Linked DNA regions of Homo sapiens: region 1 is linked to region 2. Evidence: fine-mapped expression QTL. A gene starts in region 2. The other region holds a variant in brackets. All regions are shown on one strand. Distances are from middle to middle. Region 1 overlaps ALOX5 (arachidonate 5-lipoxygenase). Region 2 holds the start of ALOX5 (arachidonate 5-lipoxygenase).

Region 1 (8,000 bases), 49 kb after region 2:
GGAATACTATGCAGCCATAAAAAAGGATGAGTTAATGTCCTTTGCAGGGACATGGATGAAGCTGGAAACCATTATTCTCAGCAAACTATCGCAAGGACAAAAAACCAAACACCGCATGTTCTCACTCATAGGTGGGAATTGAACAATGAGAACACTTGGACACAGGAAGGGGAACATCACACACCAGGGCCTGTCATGGGGTGGGGAGAGGGGGGAGGGATAGCATTAGGAGATATACCTAATTAGGAGTTAATGGGTGCAGCACACCAACATGGCACATGTATACATATGTAACAATCCTGCACGTTGTGCACATGTATCCTAGAATTTAAAGTATAATAATAAAAAAAAAGACATACACGGAAAAAAGGAACACAAATCCACAGGAACAGTTGGTGGACTGTGCCTTTTTCCGAAGATGTCTTTAAGGGCATCAATATTTAAAGGAGAACAGGCTGGAAGGAAGAAAGGGAGGGCATGGTCACGTTACTGAATCCACATGTTGCAAAAGAAAAGGAGCAGGTAGGGGAATAGTCAGTTATGTATTCCTCTTGCGCTTAGTACATCAGCACTTGATAAGGTGAACACCAAGAGCTACCTGTGGAGGTTTTCACCTTTTATCTGTAGCTATCTTCGTTTCTTGCATCACTCAGCTTTCAGCTTAATTTTTCCCTTTTGGCAGAGTGAATTGGGGTCCAAAGATTTTCATTTCCTTTTACACCTAGAATCCTCTGAGGAGCATTAGCACCTGCTAGTGCCAGGCCAACCCCACACCCACAGATGACAGTCTATGAGGGTGGGACCCTGGCTTTGAGTCTGCACACCCAGCAGGTAGACGAGGCTGAGAACCCAGCCAGACTTCAAAGCTTAAAATAATATTATTTATTTCTAAACATTGTGTCGGTGTTTTGGGGGGTACAATAATCTATTTTAAGCTTCATGGCCATCCTGGGAGGTAAATAATATTATTGACCATTTCTAGGTGAGGAAACTGAGTCTCCAAGGGGTCAAGGTCAAGGAGTTTGCCTAAAGTCATTTAGGCAGAAATTGGCAAAACCAGGATTTGAATCCAGGTCTGTTTGTGTCCAAAGCTGGGGCATTTTTCTCCTACCACAATTGGGGTCTACTGGAGAGAAAAATTAAAACCTAACATCTGGATTAGTAATGCAGCAGTATCCACCATCTCCCTGGAAACATCACGGCAGTTAGGGGCTCACTTCCCTTCCCCTACTCTGGGATTGGGATTGTTGATCAAAGCCATGTAGCTTTAGTGGGATAGGTCCCAGACCAGGATGGGACAGGCAGGACAGAAGGCCCTTGTGAAAGAGACAGTTTGGAGGGAATAATAAGGATGGTGAGGTAGTGAGGTGGAGAGTACTGCCACCCAGTTTGGAGGGAATGGAGGAATACTGGACAGATGGACAATCAAACCGATGGACAGGCAGATGGATGGGTTGAGGGATGGATGATGAATGGATGGATGAAGGGAAGGAGGAAGGATGGAAGAAGAGGTGGATGGGGGATGGATGGAGAGATAGATGAGAAATTGATATACGGATGGATGGATTCATGGATGGTGGATGGATGGATGGATGACAGATAGTGAGATGGATGGATGGATAGATGGGTGGATGGATTGATGGGTGGATGGTGAATGGATGGTGGATGGATGGAAGTATAGACAGAGAGATGGATGGATAGATGGATGGATGGATGGATGGAGGAATTAATGGTGGAGTGAAGGCCAGACTGTGCCTTTCTTATCTCTGTTCAGTGTTTCTGAAGGTCATTGTCATCTCTGTATCTCAGGAGCCTCTGTATCTTAGCAGCTGTCACAGAATAGGTGCTCATTAAATCCTATTAAAATGAAAGTGTGACCCACCTGGCCCCTGAGTGCCCCTGAGTGCCAGCTGGGTCACAGTCCATTTTAACAGGGTTTAATGAGCACCTATCCTGTGGTATAGAAGGTAACTGTGCACCTCCTTTTCATGTATCCCCATCATGGCTAACAACAGCCTAGACATATGGTTCTCAATCCTGTGTGTTTAGTGTTACAGACTCCATGCTGCCCACTCTGCACAAACTGTGGAACCAGGGGAAGTCCAGCACAGTTATATTTTAGGGCTACTGGTGGATTCCAGTGTATAGCCAGGATTAAGAACACTGGCCTGTAATGCCTTTCTGGGCCTCCCCACCCCCCACATATGGTTGCATCTATTTGCTGAGTCAAGTCCATCTGCTGGGTCCCAGGGAGTGCCTCCTCCTCTCCCAGCTCCACCATCTCTCCTGAGTGAGGGCAGGAGCATCTTTCCAGCTGCCTCCCTGGGCTCCATCTCTCAAGACAGTGGGAGGGCTTATTCTCAAGTGCTTGTATAATTTGTTGGAGGCTCGCTCTAAAAAGTAAATATAATTTCTTGGTTGGCTCAATTGCAGGTGAGAGCCCAGATGTCTCTGCCCAGAAATGGAGATACATCCATAGGGACGCACCCGCCCCTGCCATCTCTCAGGTCCTACATGCATAGGATGCTCCACCGTGGGGAGCCAGCAGGGCTTTGCAGAGCATCTCTTGTCTCTGACCTAGCTGTTTCCTTTGCCACACCCACCCTCCCCACTTCTTGGCCAAGACATGGGTGAGGGGCCCCTTCTTGCAGAAGCTTCTAGAAGCCTCTGGCCCCAGTGAGGTCCCCTCCCCTGTACTCCCCAGTGCCGCCCACCCTGCCCTTGGCCCCAGAAGTGCTGCAGCCCACGTTTCTCCACATCGTCCTGTCATTAGCCCCTTGAGTGATGGCCTATTGGCAGGAGCAGAGCGAAGGAATCCTGAGAGGGGCCCTTCTGCCCCTCCTGGCCCAGCAGGCTGGACAGTAAGCTTAGCCCCACTCTGAGCACCGCCTCTGTGCTGGCACAGTGGATGGAGACCCTTGAGTTCTGCGGGGGAGAGAAGAGGTGTCCCTGTATTTGAGGAGCTGAGCCAAGGGGGCTGGACCACAAGGAAGCAGCTTAGAGGAGCCTGTGTGGGGATGAGGGGTGCCTGGGAGAGGGCCCTGGGCCGGTGGGGGTTGGGGGGACCCTAGGAAAGTCGTCTAAGTTCCCTGAGCCTCGGTGTCCTCAAATGAACAATGAGACCCGGCCCCAGCTCCTCCCCAGGGTTGTGAGATTAAAATGGGATCGCACACATCAGCCCCTCAGGGAAGTTTCTCCCTAAAGACAGCCTTTGTCTTCTCCATTCTTGGTTCAGGCCCTCTGGGACCGCGTCTCCACCATCACACACCGGCCTAGGGCTGCACTCTTGGAAGGGCCCCTGCGCTTGCAGGGTGGGCAGGGGACCCTCGCTTCACCTGGGCGTCCTCTCTGATGGGGCCCAGGAAGGCTTTGCAGCCGGGGGCCATCTGACCAGGTCTTACTGGGCCCAGGCAGAGGTACGTGGGGCCTGGAGAATGGCACAGGGGGCTGCAGCGGAGAGAGACTGTGGGCACAGGTGTGGCGAGGCCAGGCCGCCGAGAGCCAAGTGGTTTGCGAAATTTCCTGGTGGTGTGGAGGGAGGAAAAGCTGATGTGTTCACCTCCCCACTCGCTGTTTGCAGCCTGGAAGACGATTGCAGGGGGTGGCAGGGCTGAAAAGACAATGTCCTCATTAAAGGAAATTGAGAAAGAGAGTTTCCTTCCCAGTGGGGCGGGACAGTGCAGAAATGCGGCCGGTCCTGGAAGAGGTGGGGGCGAGGGGTCGGGGGCTCACACGCCCTGCGATTTCCTCCCATGAGAATGGGCGGGGGCAGCTCCGGGAAGGGTGGCGGATGGAGCCGCCCTCTCCCCAGGACCACAGGGGCGCTTTCCAGTGAAGGCGCCGTAGGAAACGCCAGTCTGTGCCGCAGTGTACGTAGAGGCGCTATGAGCCCGAGTTTCCCACGTCCAGGGACAAACTGGGAGCCGTGACTGTCAGGCCGCGCGGAGGCTGCCCTGGCCGCCTTTGCGGTCAGGTGAAGGCGCAGAGGCAGGGAGGCCGGGCGAGCGCAGGCGGGCGGAGAGCAGACCACGCGGAAGAGGCCGAGAGAGAAAGCGGGGCACCCGGCCGGGGGGGTCATTTACAAGGGACGCTGGGCACGAAGGAGGCTGGGGCGAAGATGAGTCCAGGGGTTGGGTTGAGAGCGCTGCGCAGCCGGGCTGAGAAGAGAAGCTGACGAGTGACTCCCGACAAGGGACGGGGGAGAGGGAACCTGGGGGCAGGCAGAGGCCTAGGGGGTGGGCTCTGAGGGCAGCCACTCCCACCGGCCCTCCCCCAGCCCCGCAGGCCAGCCACATGCCCCGTGCTCCAGACGACCCAGCTACATGGATGGCAGCGTCCTGAAGGGGGATGATCGGTAGGGAGTGGGTGCGGAGGCTCACGCCTGTAATCCCAGTGTTCGGGGATTCCCGAGCGGGAGGATCGCTTGAGCCGGGGAGGTGGAAGCTGCAGTGATCTGCGCCACTGAACTCCCGCCTGGGCGGCAGAGTGAGACCCTGTTTCAAAAGGCACCAGGGGTGTAGGGAAGGAGCGATATCCCCCAGGCAAGGAAGGCTGCGGAGGGGCCA[G/C]GCCAGGAGAGAAGGGCCCTGAGCTCAGTGGACGGGCAGGGTGCCTGTGGAGGAAGGGAGGGACGTAGCAGCAGGAGGAAGGGTGAGGACCCAGGCTGGGGATCGGGAGAAGTGATGGCGGAGGAAAGAGAGGCCGGAAGAGGAGGGGGCCTGCTGGCCTGGCACTGGAAAGCAAAGCGTGGGTTTGTATATGGGAAGAAGACCACATCCCCTCTTATCGTCATCCCAACTCAGAAACCATTTGGCCCCAAGTCACCAAAGCACTCATAGGAACCACTTTTCCTGTGACACAAGTAGGATTCTCCCACTTTTAACTTCCCAAATGCTACCCGAAAGCCTCTGAAATCCTTGGAAATTTAAAAAATAATCCCCTTCTATTAACTGATGCCTATAAAACATATTGACTTTCATTAAATTTTGTTATGAAATCAGGGATGTGTCCCATTGTAAAATAAATTTGTTTGGAAAATGTAGGGTGGTATCCCATCTAAAAATCAGACGAGGCTAGAAAATTTCAATTTTATTTGCTAAGGTAGCATCATGTTGTTAAAAATGCATCATAAAATAAGACCAAGAGTTAATACAAAGCATGAAGTCATGTTTCCCTCAAAAAAATGATTTGTTCTGTAGTCAAATTAATTTGGAAAACATTGCAAACTCTTCAGCAGTGGTTCTCAAAGTATAGCTTGCGTCAGAATCCCCTGGGGCCCTTGCTAAAATCTGGATGGCTACACTCCCCGCCTAGAGTGGGTTAAACTCAGTGCCCACTGGCAGGAAACTGAAACTTGGCTGAAGTCACCGAGGAGGCCTTCCCCGTTAAACCTCTGGCTGGCGACAGCTTGGTTTCCTCGCCGCTGCTTCTGAGTAATTCTGGCACGCAGTTCCTCCTAGCCACCTGCTGTACCTGGAAGGGGGCCAGCCCTCCTCAGCAGGCTTTGCTCCTGCCCTGCACAGCACAACTGTGGCGTAAAAAATGGAAAAGCTGGTAGCAGAAGGAAAGAGCAGGGAGACAGAGGTTAGGTGAACCTCAATGGCCTCATTAAAGCAAATTGAGAAAGAGAGTTTCCTTCCCAGTGAGGCGGGACAGTGCAGAAATGCGGCCCGTCCTGGGAGAAGTAGGGGCGAGGGGTGGGGGGCTCACCGGGCACATGGCCAACAGCTGGTGCCCAGCCTGGGCCACAGTTTGGCACAGGAGAAAGCTGAAGATGCAGGAGAAAGCTAGGTCACTGCCCCTAGGCCAGGTGATCAAGGTGGCTGTTACCTGCCTGTGTGGCCTTGAAAAAGCCTGGTGCCCTCTCTGGCTTGCAGGGTCCTTCTTTTTACAAAAGCGGGTCTTCGAAGCCCTGAATATTCCAGTTATCTGTAAGGATATAGAAATATTTTGCCTCTAGATGACATGTAAATATGTTCCTCCTAACTCCACTTCTTCCTACATCTGTGGCTTCTTCTGAGAACTACCAGACCCACCCTGTTTTCAGAGTAAACCTCCTGTTTTGAGGTCAAACAGACCCAGCTGGGTAATTGGTGACTCACTCCTGGTTCCTCCAAAGAACAGGGGCAAGGGACCACCCGGGACCTCAGGTGCCCCAGCACAGGACCTCTTTCTGGGGCACCCTCTGGCACTGGGCCATCTTCAGGCCCTACAGGGCTCTCGGGGCCTGCGTAGGCCTCTCATCTCCCAGAAATAAGTTCTTTTCCCCACCCAGACTGACACCAGATGCTACAGTGAGGTTTACCCCTCCAGCTTGACAAGCATTCCTAGCCCAGAACACTCAGCTGACGAGGGGTGCTGGGGGAGGAAGGAGGCAGCAAGGCTGAAAGAAGCTTCTCTGGGTATTCCAGTGCCTGGCTGCTGGTCGTAGCCATGGTGAGACCACAGCAGCCTCCCTGGAAGCAAGCACCTGTGTAAAAGCCCCTCCTTCCCCACAAGGGGCTGGATCCAAGTGAAGAAGGTACCAGAAGGACTGGAAGATGATGCTGGTATTATTCGACAGCTCCAGGGTGCTGTAGCACTGAGCACCTACTGTATGCAGCCCATCACAAAGCCAGCCACACTGCCCAGGCTGTGCCATGGCAACTTCCAGCAGTACACCCTCTCGGTCACCTGCAGGCTCCTTGTTCATCCTGACACATGAGGAGAAAAAGACAGTACTCACAAAGGCCTCTAGCCTTGTGGCCCCAGGACCCTCTCCTGAGCATCATGGCCTCCTAGGAGACCCAGGGTAGCCAGGACAAAGGAGAGAAGCATTTGCTAAGCTAAGAAAGGATGGAAGGGGATTGCTGTTCTGCCTGGATGCACCCCTAGACCTGGCAGGGCAGGCAGGAGAGACCCCCAGTGTCTCTTGCTTATCCTAGGAGTTCCCCCCTGTGGTTGCTCCAGTTTGCTGCCTTCATGCATGTTCACAGGGTGATTCCCCTGAGACAACAGAGCTGGGATGTCACCAAGCCCTGTGTCCCATCAGCCAGGCTCTCCCCAGCCTCCATCCTCTCATTCTGCTGGATCAGGAGGATGTGGGGAGGTCCCTGACTCCCCAGCTTTCCCCATGACAAGGTGTGTGTCTACAGCTCAGACCCAGCCATGCTCCACCTGAGAAGTGGGTCCAGGCAGAGCACTGGGTCCTGGCCACCTAGGGCTGCCTCCTCAGGGGTGGGCAGGAAGGGGAGCCACTGGAGGAGTGCCCCGGGCACAGTCCCCTGCACCAGGTGAGGTCACCTCTTAGTCCATGAGGCGATGCTGCATGAGCCCCTCTGGACACTAGAAGGCCTGGGCTCAATGCTGAGTAAAGTGCAGGCATGACTGTGCCCTCAGCATGCATAGGGCAGCAGGCATAGATTCATACACGTGAGTTTGCACTTAAGCTGCAGTAAGAGCTACAGAGGAAATGAACAGAGACAGCATCACTCCAGTGAGCCCTCCAGATACACCCCATGTGCGCAGTAAGAGAATGGCATAGTCTATTGGGACAGCCACATCAAAATACCACAGACCAGATGGCTTAAACGGCAGATATTTGTCTCTCACAGGTCCGGAGGCTAGAAGTCCAAGATTAGGGTGCCAGCCAATCCACTTGCTGGTGAGGGCCCTCTTCCCAGCTTGCAGATGTCTCTGTGTTCCCACAGCATGGTCACGTGGCAGAGAGAGGGGGACAGGGCATGAATAAGCCCTCGGTGCCTTCCTCTTCTTACGAGGATGCTAATCCCATCACGGGTACCCCACCCTCGTGACCTCGTCTAACCCTAATCACCTCCCAAAGGCCCCATCTCCTAATGCCATCACACTGGGGGTCAGGGCTTCAACACATGAATTTGGGGAGCACAATTTAGTCCACAGCAGAAAAGAAAGGGGCACAGAGCATTCCAGCCTGAAGGAAACAGATGTGCAAAGGCCCAAGGCAAAGGCCTGAGCTCTGAGGGGCAACCAGAGTCAAGGCTGAA
Region 2 (15,349 bases):
GTTCATCTCACTAGGGAGTGCCAGACAGTGGGCACAGGTCAGTGGGTGCGCGCACTGTGTGCGAGCCAATGCAGGGTGAGGCGTTGCCTCACTCGGGATGTGCAAGGGGTCAGAGAGTTCCCTTTCCTAGTCAAAGAAAGGGGTGACAGATGGCACCTGGAAATTCGGGTCACTCCCACCTGAATACTGCACTTTTCCAACGGGCTTAAAAAACGGCGCACCTGGAGAGTATATCCCGCACCTGGCTTGGAGGGTCCTATGCCCACGGAGTCTTGCTGATTGCTAGCACAGCAGTCTGAGATCAAACTGCAAGGCAGCGGCGAGGCTGGGGGAGGGGCGCCTGCCATTGCCCAGGCTTGCTTAGGTAAACAAAGCAGCTGGGAACCTCAAACTGGGTGGATCCCACCACAGCTCAAGGAGGCCTGCCTGCCTCTGTAGGCTCCACCTCTGGGGGCAGGGCACAGGCAAACAAAAAGACAGCAGTAACCACTGCAGACTTAAATGTCCCTGTCTGACAGCTTTGAAGAGAGCAGTGGTTCTCCCAGCACGCAGCTGGAGATCTGAGAACGGGCAGACTGCCTCCTCAAGTGGGTCCCTGACCCCTGACCCCCGAGCAGCCTAACTGGGAGGCATCCCCGAGCAGAGGCAGACTGACACCTCACACAGCCGGGTACTCCAACAGACCTGCAGCTGAGGGTCCTGTCTGTTAGAAGGAAAACTAACAAACAGAAGGACATCCACACCAAAAACCCATCTGTACATCACCATCATCAAAGACCAAAAGTAGATAAAACCACAAAGATGGGGAAAAAACAGAGCAGAAAAACTAGAAACTCTAAAAGGCAAAGCGCCTCTCCTCCTCCAAAGGAATGCAGTTCCTCACCAGGAATGGAACAAAGCTGGACGGAGAATGACTTTGACGAGCTGAGAGAAGAAGGCTTCAGATGATCAAATTACTCCGAACTACGGGAGGACATTCAAACCAAAGGCAAAGAAGTTGAAAACGTTCAAAAAATTTAGAAGAATGTATAACTAGAATAACCAATACAGAGAAGTGCTTAAAGGAGCTGATGGAGCTGAAAACCAAGGCTCGAGAACTACGTGAAGACTCAGGAGCCGATGCGATCAACTGGAAGAAAGGGTATCAGCGATGGAAGATGAAATGAATGAAATGAAGTGAGAAGGAAAGTTTAGAGAAAAAAGAATAAAAAGAAATGAACAAAGCCTCCAAGAAATATGGGACTATGTGAAAAGACCAAATCTACATCTGATTGGCGTACCTGAAAGTGACGGGGAGAATGGAACCAAGTTGGAAAACACTCTGCAGGATATTATCCAGGAGAACTTCCCCAATCTAGCAAGGCAGGCCAACATTCAGATTCAGGAAATACAGAGAACGCCACAAAGATACTCCTCGAGAAGAGCAACACCAAGACACATAATTGTCAGATTCACCAAAGTTGAAATGAAGGGAACAATGTTAAGGGCAGCCAGAGAGAAAGGTCGGGTTACCCTCAAAGGGAAGCCCATCAGACTAACAGCGGATCTCTCGGCAGAAACTCTACAAGCCAGAAGAGAGTGGTGGCCAATATTCAACATTCTTAAGGAAAAGAATTTTCAAACCAGAATTTCATATACAGCCAAACTAAGCTTCATAAGTGAAGGAGAAATAAAATCCTTTACAGACAAGCAAATGCTGAGAAATTTTGTCACCACCAGGCCTGCCCTAAAAGAGCTCCTGAAGGAAGTGCTAAACATGGAAAGGAACAACCGGTACCAGCCGCTGCAAAATCATGCCAAAATGTAAAGACCATCGAGGCTAGGAAGAAACTGCATCAACTAACGAGCAAAACAACCTGCTAACATCATAATGACAGGATCAAATTCACACATAACAATATTAACTTTACATGTAAATGGACTAAATGCTGCAATTAAAAGACACAGACTGGCAAATTGCATAAAGATTCAAGACCCATCAGTGTGCTGTATTCAGGAAACCCATCTCACGGGCAGAGACACACATAGGCTCAAAATAAAGGGATGGAGGAAGACCTACCAAGCAAATGGAAAACAAAAAAAAGGCAGGGGTTGCAATCCTAGTCTCTGATAAAACAGACTTTAAACCAACACAGATCAAAAGAGACAAAGAAGGCCATTACTTAATGGTAAAGGGATCAATTCAACAAGAAGAGCTAACAATCCTAAATATATATGCACCCAATACAGGAGCACCCAGATTCATAAAGCAAGTCCTGAGTGACCTACAAAGAGACTTAGACTACCACACATTAATAATGGGAAACTTTAACACCCCACTGTCAACATTAGACAGATCAACAAGACAGAAAGTCAACAAGGATACCCAGGAATTGAACTCAGCTCTGCACCAAGCAGACCTAATAGACATCTACAGAACTCTCCACCCCAAATCAACAGAATATACATTTTTTTCAGCACCACACCATACCTATTTCAAAATTGACCACATACTTGGAAGTAAAGCTCTCCTCAGCAAATGTAAAAGAACAGAAATTATAACAAACTGTCTCTCTAACCACAGTGCAATCAAACTACAACTCAGGATGAAGAAACTCACTCAAAACTGCTCAACTACATGGAAACTGAACAACCTGCTCCTGAATGACTACTGGGTACACAACGAAATGAAGGCAGAAATAAAGATGTTCTTTGAAACCAATGAGAACAAAGACACAACATACCAGAAATTCTGGGATGCATTCAAAGCAGTGTGTAGAGGGAAATTTGTAGCACTAAATGCCCACAAGAGAAAGCAGGAAAGATCCAAAATTGACACCCTAACATCACAATTAAAAGAACTAGAAAAGCAAGAGCAAACACATTCAAAAGCTAGCAGAAGGCAAGAAATAACTAAAATCAGAGCAGAACTGAAGGAAACAGAGACAAAAAAAACCCTTCAAAAATTAATGAATCCAGGAGCTGGTTTTTTGAAAGGATCAACAAAATTGATAGACCGCTAGCAAGAATAATAAAGAAAAAAAGAGAGAAGAATCAAATAGATGCAATAAAAAATGATAAAGGGGATATCACCACCGATCCCACAGAAATAAAAACTATCATCAGAGAATACTACAAACACCTCTATGCAAATAAACTAGAAAATCTAGAAGAAATGGATAAATTCCTCGACACATACACTCTCCCAAGACTAAACCAGGAAGAAGTTGAATCTCTGAATAGACCAATAACAGGAGCTGAAATTGTGGCAATAATCAATAGCTTACCAACCAAAAAGAGTCCAGGACCAGATGGATTCACAGCCGAATTTTACCAGAGGTACAAGGAGGAACTGGTACCATTCCTTCTGAAACTATTCCAATCAATAGAAAAAGAGGGAATCCTCCCTAACTCATTTTATGAGGCCAGCATCATCCTGATACCAAAGCCGGGCAGAGACAAAACCAAAAAAGAGGATTTTAGACCAATATCCTTGAGGAACATTGATGCCAAAATCCTCAATAAAATACTGGCAAACCAAATCCAGCAGCACATCAAAAAGCTTATCCACCATGATCAAGTAGGCTTCATCCCTAGGATGCAAGGCTTGTTCAACATATGCAAATCAATAAATGTAATCCAGCATATAAACAGAACCAAAGACAAAAACCACATGATTATCTCAATAGATGCAGAAAAGGCCTTTGACAAAATTCAACAACACTTCATGTTAAAAACTCTCAATAAATTAGGTATTGCTGGGACGTATCTCAAAATAATAAGAGCTATCTATGTCAAACCCACAGCCAATATCATACTGAATGGGCAAAAACTGGAAGCATTCCCTTTGAAAATTGGCACAAGACAGGGATGCCCTCTCTCACCACTCCTATTCAACATAGTGCTGGAAGATCTGTCCAGGGCAATCAGGCAGGAGAAGGAAATAAAGGGTATTCAATTAGGAAAAGAGGAAGTCAAATTGTCCCTGTTTGCAGATGACATGATTTTATATCTAGAAAACCCCATTGTCTCAGCCCAAAACCTCCTTAAGCTGATAAGCAACTTCAGCAAAGTCTCAGGATACAAAATCAATGTACAAAAATCACAAGCATTCTTATACACCAACAACAGACAAACAGAGAGCCAAATCATGAGTGAACTCCCATTCACAATTGCTTCAAAGAGAATAAAATACCTAGGAATCCACCTTACAAGGGATGTGAAGCACCTCTTCAAGGAGAACTACAAACCACTGCTCAACGAAATAAAAGAGGATACAAACAAATGGAAGAACATTCCATGCTCATGGGTAGGAAGAATCAATATTGTGAAAATGGCCATACTGCCCAAGGTAATTTACAGATTCAATGCCATCCCCATCAAGCTACCAATTACTTTCTTCACATAATTGGAAAAAACTACTTTAAAGTTCATATGGAACCAAAAAAGAGCCCGCATCACCAAGTCAATCCTGAGCCAAAAGAACAAGGCTGGAGGCATCACACTACCTGACTTCAAGCTATACTACAAGGCTACAGTAACCAAAACAGCTTGGTACTGTTACCAAAACAGAGATATAGATCAATGGAACAGAACAGAGCCCTCAGAAATAATGCTGCATATCGACAACTGTCTGATCTTTGACAAACCTGAGAAAAACAAGAAATGGGGAAAGGATTCCCTATTTAATAAATGGTGCTGGGAAAACTGGCTAGCCATATGTAGAAAGATGAAACTGGATCCCTTCCTTACACCTTATACAAAAATTAATTCAAGATGGATTAAAGACTTAAATGTCAGACCTAAAACCATAAAAACCCTAGAAGAAAACCTAGGCATTACCATTCAGGACATAGGCATGGGCAAGGACTTCATGTCTAAAACACCAAAAGCAATGGCAACAAAAGCCAAAATTGACAAATGGGATCTAATTAAACTAAAGAGCTTCTGCACAGCAAAAGAAACTACCATCAGAGTGAATAGGCAACCTACAGAATGGGAGAAAATTTTTGCAATCTACTCATCTGACAAAGGGCTAATATTCAGAATCTACAAAGAACTTAAACAAATGTTCAAGAAAAAAACAACCCCATCAAAAAGTGGGCAAAATACATGAAAAGACACTTCTCAAAAGAAGACATTTATGCAGCCAACAGACACATGAAAAAATGCTCATCATCACTGGCCATCAGAGAAATGCAAATCAAAACCACAATGAGATACCATCTCACACCAGTTAGAATGACGATCATTAAAGTCAGGAAACAACAGATGCTGGAGAGGACATGGAGAAATAGGAATGCTTTTACACTGTTGGTGGGGGTGTAAATTAGTTCAATCATTGTTGAAGACAGTGTGGCAATTCCTCAAGGATCTAGAACTAGAAATACCATTTGACCCAGCAATCCCATTACTGGGTATATACCGAAAAGATTACAAATGGTGCAACTATAAAGACACATGCACACGAATGTTTATTGTGGCACTATTCACAATAGCAAAGACTTCTAACAAACCCAGATGTCCATCAATGATAGACTGGATTAAGAAAATGTGGCACATATACACCATGGAATACTATGCAGCCATAAAAAAGGATGAGTTCATGTCCTTTTCAGGGACATGGATGAAGCTGGAAACCATCATTCTCAGCAAACTATGACAAGGACAGAAAACCAAACACCGCATGTTCTCACTCATAGATGGGAACTGAACAATGAGAACACTTGGACACAGGGCAGGGAACATCACACACCAGGGCCTGTTGGGGGGTGGTGGACTGGGGGAGAGATAGCATTAGGAGAAATACCTAATGTAAATGATGAGTTGATGGATGCAGCAAACCAACAGGGCACATCTATACCTATGTAAGAAACCTGCACTTTGTGCACAGGTACCCTAGAACTTGAAGTATAATAAAAATGAAAAAAAGAAAATGTTACTAGCAAATTGTAGATGGGTATACCTAATATAACTCTGCATGTGCACTATGTGTCTGGATACACATGGAAAGTATTCAGGCATACACACCAAATTGTTAAAATAAATCCCCTTCCAACATTAGGAGTGGCTGGGGAGCAGATGGCTTTCACTTCCGCACATTCCATGGTGCCAGGGTAATACCACATCACAATAGTAAATAGCAAAAATAACAACCTTAAGTTTAGATTTTCTTATCTAAATTTTAATTCTGTGAAGAAGTTTCCATTTCCCTTTTTCACACAGGATAGTAGAATGCAGTTTAGAAAGAGTGAGATCACTTGTTAGACTGTACAATTTTTAAGCATCAGCGAAGTATACCATTAAACTTCTCTATCAATCCATTCTCTAAACTTCCCAACCCAAAAAAAAAGAAACACATAAAATTGAAATGAAGAAAACAATACAAAAGATCAACAAAAATGAAAGGTTGGCTTTTTAAAGAGATAAACAAAATTGACAAATGTTTAGCCAGACTAAGAAAAAGAGAAGGCCCAAATAAATAAAATCAGAGATGAAAAAGCAGACATTATAACTGATACTGCGGAAATTCAAAGGATCATTAATGGCTACTATGAGCAACTGTATGCCAAACATTGGAAAATATTGAAGAAATAGATAAATTCGTAGACACACGCAACCTAACAAGATTCAACCATGAAGAAATTCAAAATCTGAACAGACCAAAAACAAGTAACAAGATCAAAGCCATAATTAAAATTTTCCCAGCAAAGAAAAGCCTGAGACCCAATGGCTTCACTGCTGAATTCTATCAAACATTTAAAGAACTAATACCAATCCTACTCAAACTATTCCAAAAAGTAGAAGAGGAGGGAATATTTCCAAACTTATTCTATGAGGCCATTACTGCTCCTATATCAAAACCAAGGACACATCAAAAAAAGAAAACTATAGGCCAATATCTCACATGAATATTGATGAATCCTCAAAAAATGCTAGCAAACTGAATTCAACATCACATTAAAAATCATTCATTATGACCAAATGGGATTTATCCCAGGGATGCAAATATGGTTCAACATATACACATCAGTCAGTGTAACATATCATATCAACAGAATGAAGAAGAAAAACCATATGGTCATGTTAATTGATGCTGAAAAAGTATTTGAGAGAATTAAACATCTCTTCATGACAAAAACCCTCAAAAACACTGGAGACAGAAGGAACATACCTCAACACAATAAACAGACATATATGACAGACTCACAGCTAGAATCATACTAAATGGGGAGAAACTGAAAGTCATTCCTCTAAGATCTGGAACAAGACAAGGATGCTCATTTTCACCAGTGTTAGTGGAACATAGTACTGAAAGTCCTAGCTAGAACAGACTAGAGACAGAAATAAGGGGCATCCAAACTGGGAAGAGAGAAGTCAAATTACCTTTGTTCGCAGATGGTATGATCTTCTGTTTGGAAAAACCTAGACTCCATAAAAAAATGATTAGAACTGATAAATTCAGTAAAGTTTCAGGATACAAAATTAACATACAAAAATCAGTAGCATTTCTATATGTCAATAGCAAACAATCTGAAAATGAAATCAAGGAAGTAATCCCATTTCCCATTTGCAATAGCTATAAATAAAATTAATATAATCTCATCTCTTCAATAAGTGGTGTTGGGAAAACTGCATATCCACATACAAAAGAATAAAATTAGACCCTTTTAATATACAAAACTGGACCCAAGTTAATATACAAAAATTAACTTGAAATGAATTAAAGACTTAAATGTAAGATCTGAAACCAAAAACTCCTAGAGAGAAACATAGGGGAAAAGCTCCTTGACGTTGGCCTTGGCAATAATTTTTTGGGATATTACACCAAAAGCACAGACTTTTGAAAAAATAAACAAGTAGGACTACATCAAACTAAAAAGCTTCTGCATGGCAAAAGAAAGTCAACAACATGAAAAGGCAACCTACAGAATGGAGGGAAATATTTGCAAACCATATACCTGATGAGAAGTTAATATCAAAATATAGAAAATATATAAGGAACTCACATATCTCAATACCAAAAAAATAATAACCTGTTTTATAATGGGCAAAGGACCTGAATAGACATTTTTTCAAAGAAGACACACAGATGGCCAACGAGTGCAGGAAAAAGCGTTCAACATCACTAATCATCAGGGAAATGCAAATCAAAACCACAATGAGATATCACTCCACACCTGTTAGGAAAGCTATTATGAAAAACACAAGAGACAATGAATATTGGCAAGGGCATGGAGAAAAAAGAACCCTTGTACACTGTTGGTAGAAATGTAAATTGCAACAGCCTTTATGGAAAATAGAATGGAGGTTCCTCAAAAAATAAAAATAGAACTACCATACAATCTAGCAATTCCACTTATGAGTGTACATCCAAAGGAATCAAATCACTATGTCAAAGAGATATCTGTACTTCCTTGTTTATTGCAGCTTTACTCACAGTAGCCAAGATAAGGAAAAAATCTAAATGTCCATCAACGGATAAAGAAAATGGGGGGAGGGGTGTGCATGTATACATACACAATGGACTATTTTTCAGCCATAACAAAGAAGGAAACCCTGCCATTTGTGACGATATGAATGAACCCAGAGGACATTATGTTAAGTGAAATAAGCCAGACACAGAAATACAAATATTGTATGATCTCATTTATATGCGAATCTAAAAATTTCAAACTTGAAGACGAATAAGTAGAACAGTATTTATCAGGAGCTAGGGGATGTGGGGAAGAAGCAAAATATTGGGCAAAGAGTATAAACTTTCAGTTATGAGATGAAGGCCAGGTGCGATGGCTCATGTTGGTAATCCCAATACTTTGGAAGGCTGAGGCAGAGGGATTGCTTGAGACCAGCCTAGGCAAGAAAGTGAGACCTCATCTCTACAAAAAATAAAAATAAAAGAATCAGCTGGGAGTGGTGGCATACACCTGTAGTCCCAGCTAGTCAGGAGGCTGAGGGGGGAGGATCATTTGAAATTGGAAAGTCAAGGCTGCAGTCAGCCAAGATAGTGCCACTGCATTGCAGCCTGGGTGACAGAGCGAAACCCTGTCTCAAAAAAAAAAAAAAAAAAAAGATGAATAAGTTCTGGGGATCAAATGTACAGCATGGTGACTATAGTTTATAACTGCGTTATTACTTGAAATTGGATAAGAGCAGATTTTAAGCATCCCCAGCACCCCCCCAACATACACACACACAAATGGTAACTATAGGTGGTGATAGATATGTTAATTTGACTGTGACAATCAGCATTCAATATATACATATATCAAATCATCACATTTTACCCCTTGAAATAGAAACTTTGATTTGTCAATCAAATATTTTAAAACGAAAATAATCATAATATTAATATAGCATACAGGAAAAAATTTCGTATCTCGACTGATACAGAAAATTTCATGATAAAAACACTTTAAAACAAAAGAAATAAAAGGGAACTCCCTCAACCTGATAAATGGCATCTGTGGAAACCCCCAGCTAGCATCAAACTTAATACAGAAAGGCTGGGTGTTCACCTCTTGAACCAGGAACAAGACAAAGATGCCTGCTTTTGCCACTTCCATTTGACCTTGTACTGAGGTTCTGGCTAGGGCAATTATCCCTGAAAAAGAAATAAAAGGCTTCCAAATAAAAGAAGAAGTAAAACTATCTCTACTCGCTCATGACATGATCTTGCATATAGAAAATGTGCACATGTACACACACACAAACCATTAGAACTAATAAACAAGTTCAGCAAGTTTGCAGAATATAAAATGAATGTACAAAAATCAAGTGTTTTTCTATATACTAGCAATTAACAATCTCAAAATGAATTAAAATTCCATTTACAATAGTATCAAACATAAATTATTTAGAAATAAAAAGTGCACTGAAAACTACAAAATATTTTGAAATAAATCAGAAAAGATTTAAGTAAATGGATCACTTGAACCTGGGAAGCAGAGGTTGCAGTGTGCCGAGATTGTACCACTGCACTTTAGCCTGGGCAACAGAGGGAGACTCCAAAGAGTCGAAAAGAAAAGAAAAGATTTAAATAAGCTGAAACATATTCTATGGATCAGAAGACTTAATATTGTTAAAGTGACAATATTCCCCAAATTGATCTACAGCTTCAACTCAACCCCTATCAAAATCCTAGCTTGCTTTTTGGCTGAAATTGACAAGCTGATTCTATAATTTATATGGAATCTCAAAGGATCCAGAATAACCAAAACAATATTGAAAAATAAAGAACAGCGTTGGTGGATTAACATTTTCCAATTTCAAAACTTACTATAGCACTGCGGTAATCAAGCAGTGTGGCACTGTATAGCATGTACATTACAGATCAGTGGACTAGAATCAATGTCCAGAAATAAACCGTTATGTTTATAATGAATTACTTTTTAATAAGGTGTCAAGACAACGCAATGGGAAAAGAATAATGAATTCAACAAATGATGCATGGACAACCGGACATGCACATGCAACACAATGAATTTGAATTCTTCTATCGCTCCATGCATAAAAACTAACTCAAAATGGGTCACGGATGTAAATGAAAAGCTAAAACTATAATAATCCTAGAGGAAAACCTAGGAGTAAATCTTTAAGATGTTATTGTAGGCAGTGGTTTCTCAGATAGGACCCCAAAATCACAAGCGACAAAAGAAATTGGACTTAAAGTTAAATACTTTTGTGCTTCAAACATCATCAAGAAAGTGAAAACACAACCCGCAGAAGCAATAAAAATGTCTGTAAGTCATGTATCCGATTAGAGACTTCTATCCAGGATATATAAATAATGCAATTCAATGATAAAAAAGATAAATAGCCCAGTTTTCCAAAGAGTCAAGCATCTGAATATACATCTCTCCAAAAATATACAGATATCCAACAAGCATGTGAAAAGATGTTCAAAGCCATTTGCCAGGTGCACAAACCCAAGACAGTATGAGGAGATGCTACAGGGACTCTGCTGCTTCACAGACATGAAGCGTTGGTGAGAATGTAGGCAGCCGCCTTTGGGGACTTCACATCCCCGCCGCCCCACGCACGGTGAGCTAGTGTTTAAACTTAGCCGAGATCAATACACGCGACTGTGTGCCCGTCAGACCCTGCGCTGCCGGCGGGGCTGGGAGAGGCGGGCGCCAGGAGTGGGCGGGAACCTGGGGGTCAGGCCCCAGCCGCGGGAAGCCGCCCAGGAGCGCGCGAAACCTTCTCCACACCCTTCCAGGCATTTGCCCGCCGCGATTCAGAGAGCCGACCCGTGACCCCTGGCCTCCCCTAGACAGCCCCGCATGTCCAGATGTGCCGTCCCGCCTGCCTCCCGCGACCACTGGCCATCTCTGGGCCTGGGCGCGGTCTCGGCGCCCGCCTGCCCCCGCCAGGAGCCGCAGGTCCAGCCAGTGAAGAAGCCCGCGCTGAAGGAGCCTCTGTGCTCCAGAATCCATCCTCAGTATCAGCGCTGGGGTGGCCTCCTCCAGGAAGCCCTTCTGATTCTCTCATGGGTCGCTCTTCCTCTGCAGACTCCCGGAGCACCCCTGCTCCAAGTACCGCAAGTGGCACTGAGAACTTGGGGAGAGCAGAGGCTGTGCCTAGATTTGTAGGGAGTCCCCGCAGCTCCACCCCAGGGCCTACAGGAGCCTGGCCTTGGGCGAAGCCGAGGCAGGCAGGCAGGGCAAAGGGTGGAAGCAATTCAGGAGAGAACGAGTGAACGAATGGATGAGGGGTGGCAGCCGAGGTTGCCCCAGTCCCCTGGCTGCAGGAACAGACACCTCGCTGAGGAGAGACCCAGGAGCGAGGCCCCTGCCCCGCCCGAGGCGAGGTCCCGCCCAGTCGGCGCCGCGTGAAGAGTGGGAGAGAAGTACTGCGGGGGCGGGGGCGGGGGCGGGGGCGGGGGCGGGGGCAGCCGGGAGCCTGGAGCCAGACCGGGGCGGGGCCGGGACCGGGGCCAGGGACCAGTGGTGGGAGGAGGCTGCGGCGCTAGATGCGGACACCTGGACCGCCGCGCCGAGGCTCCCGGCGCTCGCTGCTCCCGCGGCCCGCGCCATGCCCTCCTACACGGTCACCGTGGCCACTGGCAGCCAGTGGTTCGCCGGCACTGACGACTACATCTACCTCAGCCTCGTGGGCTCGGCGGGCTGCAGCGAGAAGCACCTGCTGGACAAGCCCTTCTACAACGACTTCGAGCGTGGCGCGGTGAGCGCGGGCGGGGCACGGGTGGAGCGCGGGCTGAGGTGCGTCCGGGACCCGGTTTGGACGGCAGAGGCCTGGGCGGGGGCGCCGAGGGCCCGTCGGGGCGGCCCGGACAGGACTGGGGGTGTCCAGGACCCTGTCAGGGAGGGCAGAACTGCGGTGGGGCGTGCCCTGGGCTCCCAGTGGCCGGTGGGTACCCTGGTGGGCAAGCGTCCAGGACCCCTCGCGGCGGCCGCGACCCCTGTCGGAAACGGAGACTTCCCGCGTGCCGCCTGCAAGGCGTCTTCCCTGGGAGGAGAAGGCCCAAGGTTTCCCCTCCACTTCAAGATCTGGGCTCCGAGGCTCCGGAGCCCCCTTCACTGGGCCGCGTTTCTTGTGCCACCTCTTCCTTAGGCTCCTTCTGCAGGTCGCACAGGGAGGGAGAGGCAGATGAGTCATGCTCACAGAACTCTGAGGGCACCTCGGAGCAGCCAGCTGTGAGCCGTGGGGAAGGGTGCACGTCAGCGGGTCCAGAGGCCTGAGTTCTGTCCAGACATGACCACCAGCTCACTCTACCGTCTGTCTGGGCCTCAGTTTCCCCAGCTGAAAATGGAGGGTTGGCTTCAGTCTGGTCCATGAGTCATGGGTGAGCCCAGGCCCATCTGGTGGCTCAGACGGCACCTGGGCAGCTTACATTCTCAGGACAGTCCCCAGAGGAAATTAAAGGGAAGGAACAGAACCCAGGCCAGGAGAGGCTTTTCCTAAATGGAGGGGCTGCACTCCCTCCCAGCAGAATGTACACCAGGGAACACTTCCACGCTAGGTGTGAGGACGCGAGGGAGCCCTCAGCATTTGGAAGCTAGTTCCTAATGCTGATCTGGACCTGAATTCCAGCCCCACGACTCTTTTCCATGAGCATGGGCAGGTCGCAGTTCTCACTGAGCCTTTAATGAAGTGCCTAATCCAGTACCTGGCACAGAGGAAGCGCTCCGTAAATGACTGGTAATAGTCCCAGACATACTGCAGGTGCGCAGGGAATATCAGTTCCCTTCCACCCCACCCCAGCTCCTAACTGGACCAAAAAGATTTAGACTTTACCAAGCTGCCTTCTCACCATTTAGTTTATTATTTGATCAAACCTTGTGAAATTGCTCATAATGGACAAATACAACCGGCAAGTTCATGTTTCAACTGATTACTCTTGGATAAAATTTGTGTTTTAGGTGTGCAGAGCCTAAAGTAAGTAAAAACTACTCTTTTTCTGGATTCCAAGCTCTCCATGGGCTCGATTCCTATCCAGGAGCCCATACCCTCGCTGTAGCACGACATGGCCCTCAGCCAAGTTCACTAGCATCCTGGCTTGAGCTCCCTTCAAGAAGAGTTAGGTGTTGAGTACAAGAGCAACCTTCAGTTGCTTAGTTGCCCCAGTCGGGGAACTGACCCTGAGGACTGCGGTGCCCTGGAGTTAATGTGTCGTCCATTTAGGGTGATGGCACCCTCTGCCATTTCTGACGCACCTTCATTTACTTCCATTATTTCATGGATTCCCCACACCTGGGGGAGAAGGACAGGGTACAGGCTACTTCCCCTTTGTAAGTGCTTCCTCCTCCCCATTCTCCTCCACACATCATAAGGTTCTAGAAGCACAGGCCATTGGTGTGCTCACACTGCACAGCACGGGCACCCCGTGTGTGCTTTCCTCCTGCAGGGGACATGATAACGTGGCCATAGCGGGCTCTTCGGACAAAGAGTGAAGGCACTGTTTTGTCCACTATCTCCCTCTCTCGGTCTGTCTTCCCCTACCCTGAGAAGTCATTCAAATGACATTATAATTAAACACCTCAGCCGGAATCCCAGGGGCAAATTTCAGGAGAGATTTGCATGTCACATTTCCATTGGGTTGAGAGGGCTATAAGTCAGGGGTGGGGCGGGGGGTGGTTGGGGGTGGGGGCTACCGCAGGGTGGGGAACCAGCTAAGGCTGAAAGTTTCCTTGAAAAAATCAGCTTTTGAGAAAGTTCCTGTTGATGCAAAGTTACTCAACACTTTCTCTTGCCCAGCCCAGAACTACTTCCTCATTCTCCCAGCTTGGTATCTGTAAAGACAATCATCCTTTTTGGGTAAAGGTAAAAGAGAAACCCTAGAGGAAGTACTTGCTGAGAAGACAAGGTTATCCCATTTTACAGGGAAAAGTGTTAAAATCTGTATTGTTAACAGTAGTAACGATAACAATAACAATAAAGGTATTTCCACACAATTTAATCATTTCCAAGTTATTGGCAGGTCAACACCCCCCTCCTCCAGGGCATAGTTCAGTCAAATAATGGACAGGACTGATTTTTTCCTTGATAAAGTGAGTCACAGGTCCCTTGTTATTCTCATCAGAGTTCCGCATAGTGATTCAGTCAGGACTGGGAATCAAGTCCTTCGCAGGTGGGATTATCCTATAAACGGTTGTGTCTTCCTTGGCTCCTCACTGTCTGCTGGAGAAAGCCGGGATCCTACACAGAATGGCCCTGTTTCCAGAGGCTAACCCAAGTCTAGGCAAATTTAACAAGTTGATTTATTTCTTTAACTCTGTAAATTTAAAGTAATTCAGATCGGATACGATAACTGTAACAGATCTGAAGATTTCTGAGAAATCTTAGTTGGCCCATTTCATTCTGTGCTGGTACTTTTAAGAAAGCTAAGGGCAATAGCGTGGTGTTTAATATATGATACTTGAATATGTTCAACAAGTGTAGAAAAGTGTTATAATGATTCATGCTTCTTAAGTCAGTGAGTATTCTTACATTCATGAAAAATTAATTCTAGAATACCTCCTTCTTGTGAATGGGAATATATTAGTGGAGCATAAATATTTCTTTGGTATGACCCTCAATCCGTCTCTCATCTCCCAGTCTCCCCCTCTGAGCCATCTTTTCCCTACATTCTGCCCCCTCTTCTGCCTCCTCTTCCTTCCCCTGCTCCCAGTTCCCTAAATGCCCCCCGTTTCTGCTCTCTACCCTACAACTCTCCCTTCTTTTTTGCTCTGAATTTTCCTCTACACTCTGTCTTCCAGCCACCTCTCAGAGGCCCCTTCTCTGCTCCCTCAATCTCCGGCTCTCTGTCCCACATTTTCCCCCTTCTCTGCCCCTTGGTCTCCCTATCCACTACCCCAATCCCTCTCTCCGTCCCTTGTTTTCCTCAGCTCTTCCCCATAGCCTCCCC

What was found.
Region 1: its variant is fine-mapped to the expression of ALOX5 in esophagus mucosa (GTEx, PIP 0.94).

What each region holds. Positions count from the first base shown.
Region 1 is chr10:45,415,239-45,423,238 of GRCh38, forward strand. The region is part of intron 4 of ALOX5 (arachidonate 5-lipoxygenase); the gene reads left to right. Among named protein-coding and RNA genes, the nearest start is that of ALOX5, 45 kb to the left of the region's middle. RefSeq lists enhancers at 3,701-4,394, 4,395-5,086, 5,115-5,616. The variant G/C (reference allele first, on the strand shown) is at 4,566.
Region 2 is chr10:45,362,265-45,377,613 of GRCh38, forward strand. It overlaps ALOX5 (arachidonate 5-lipoxygenase), which reads left to right and starts at 11,952. Exons shown (of 14, transcript NM_000698.5): 1 at 11,952-12,165. The coding sequence starts at 12,016. RefSeq lists enhancers at 11,720-12,330, 12,331-12,939.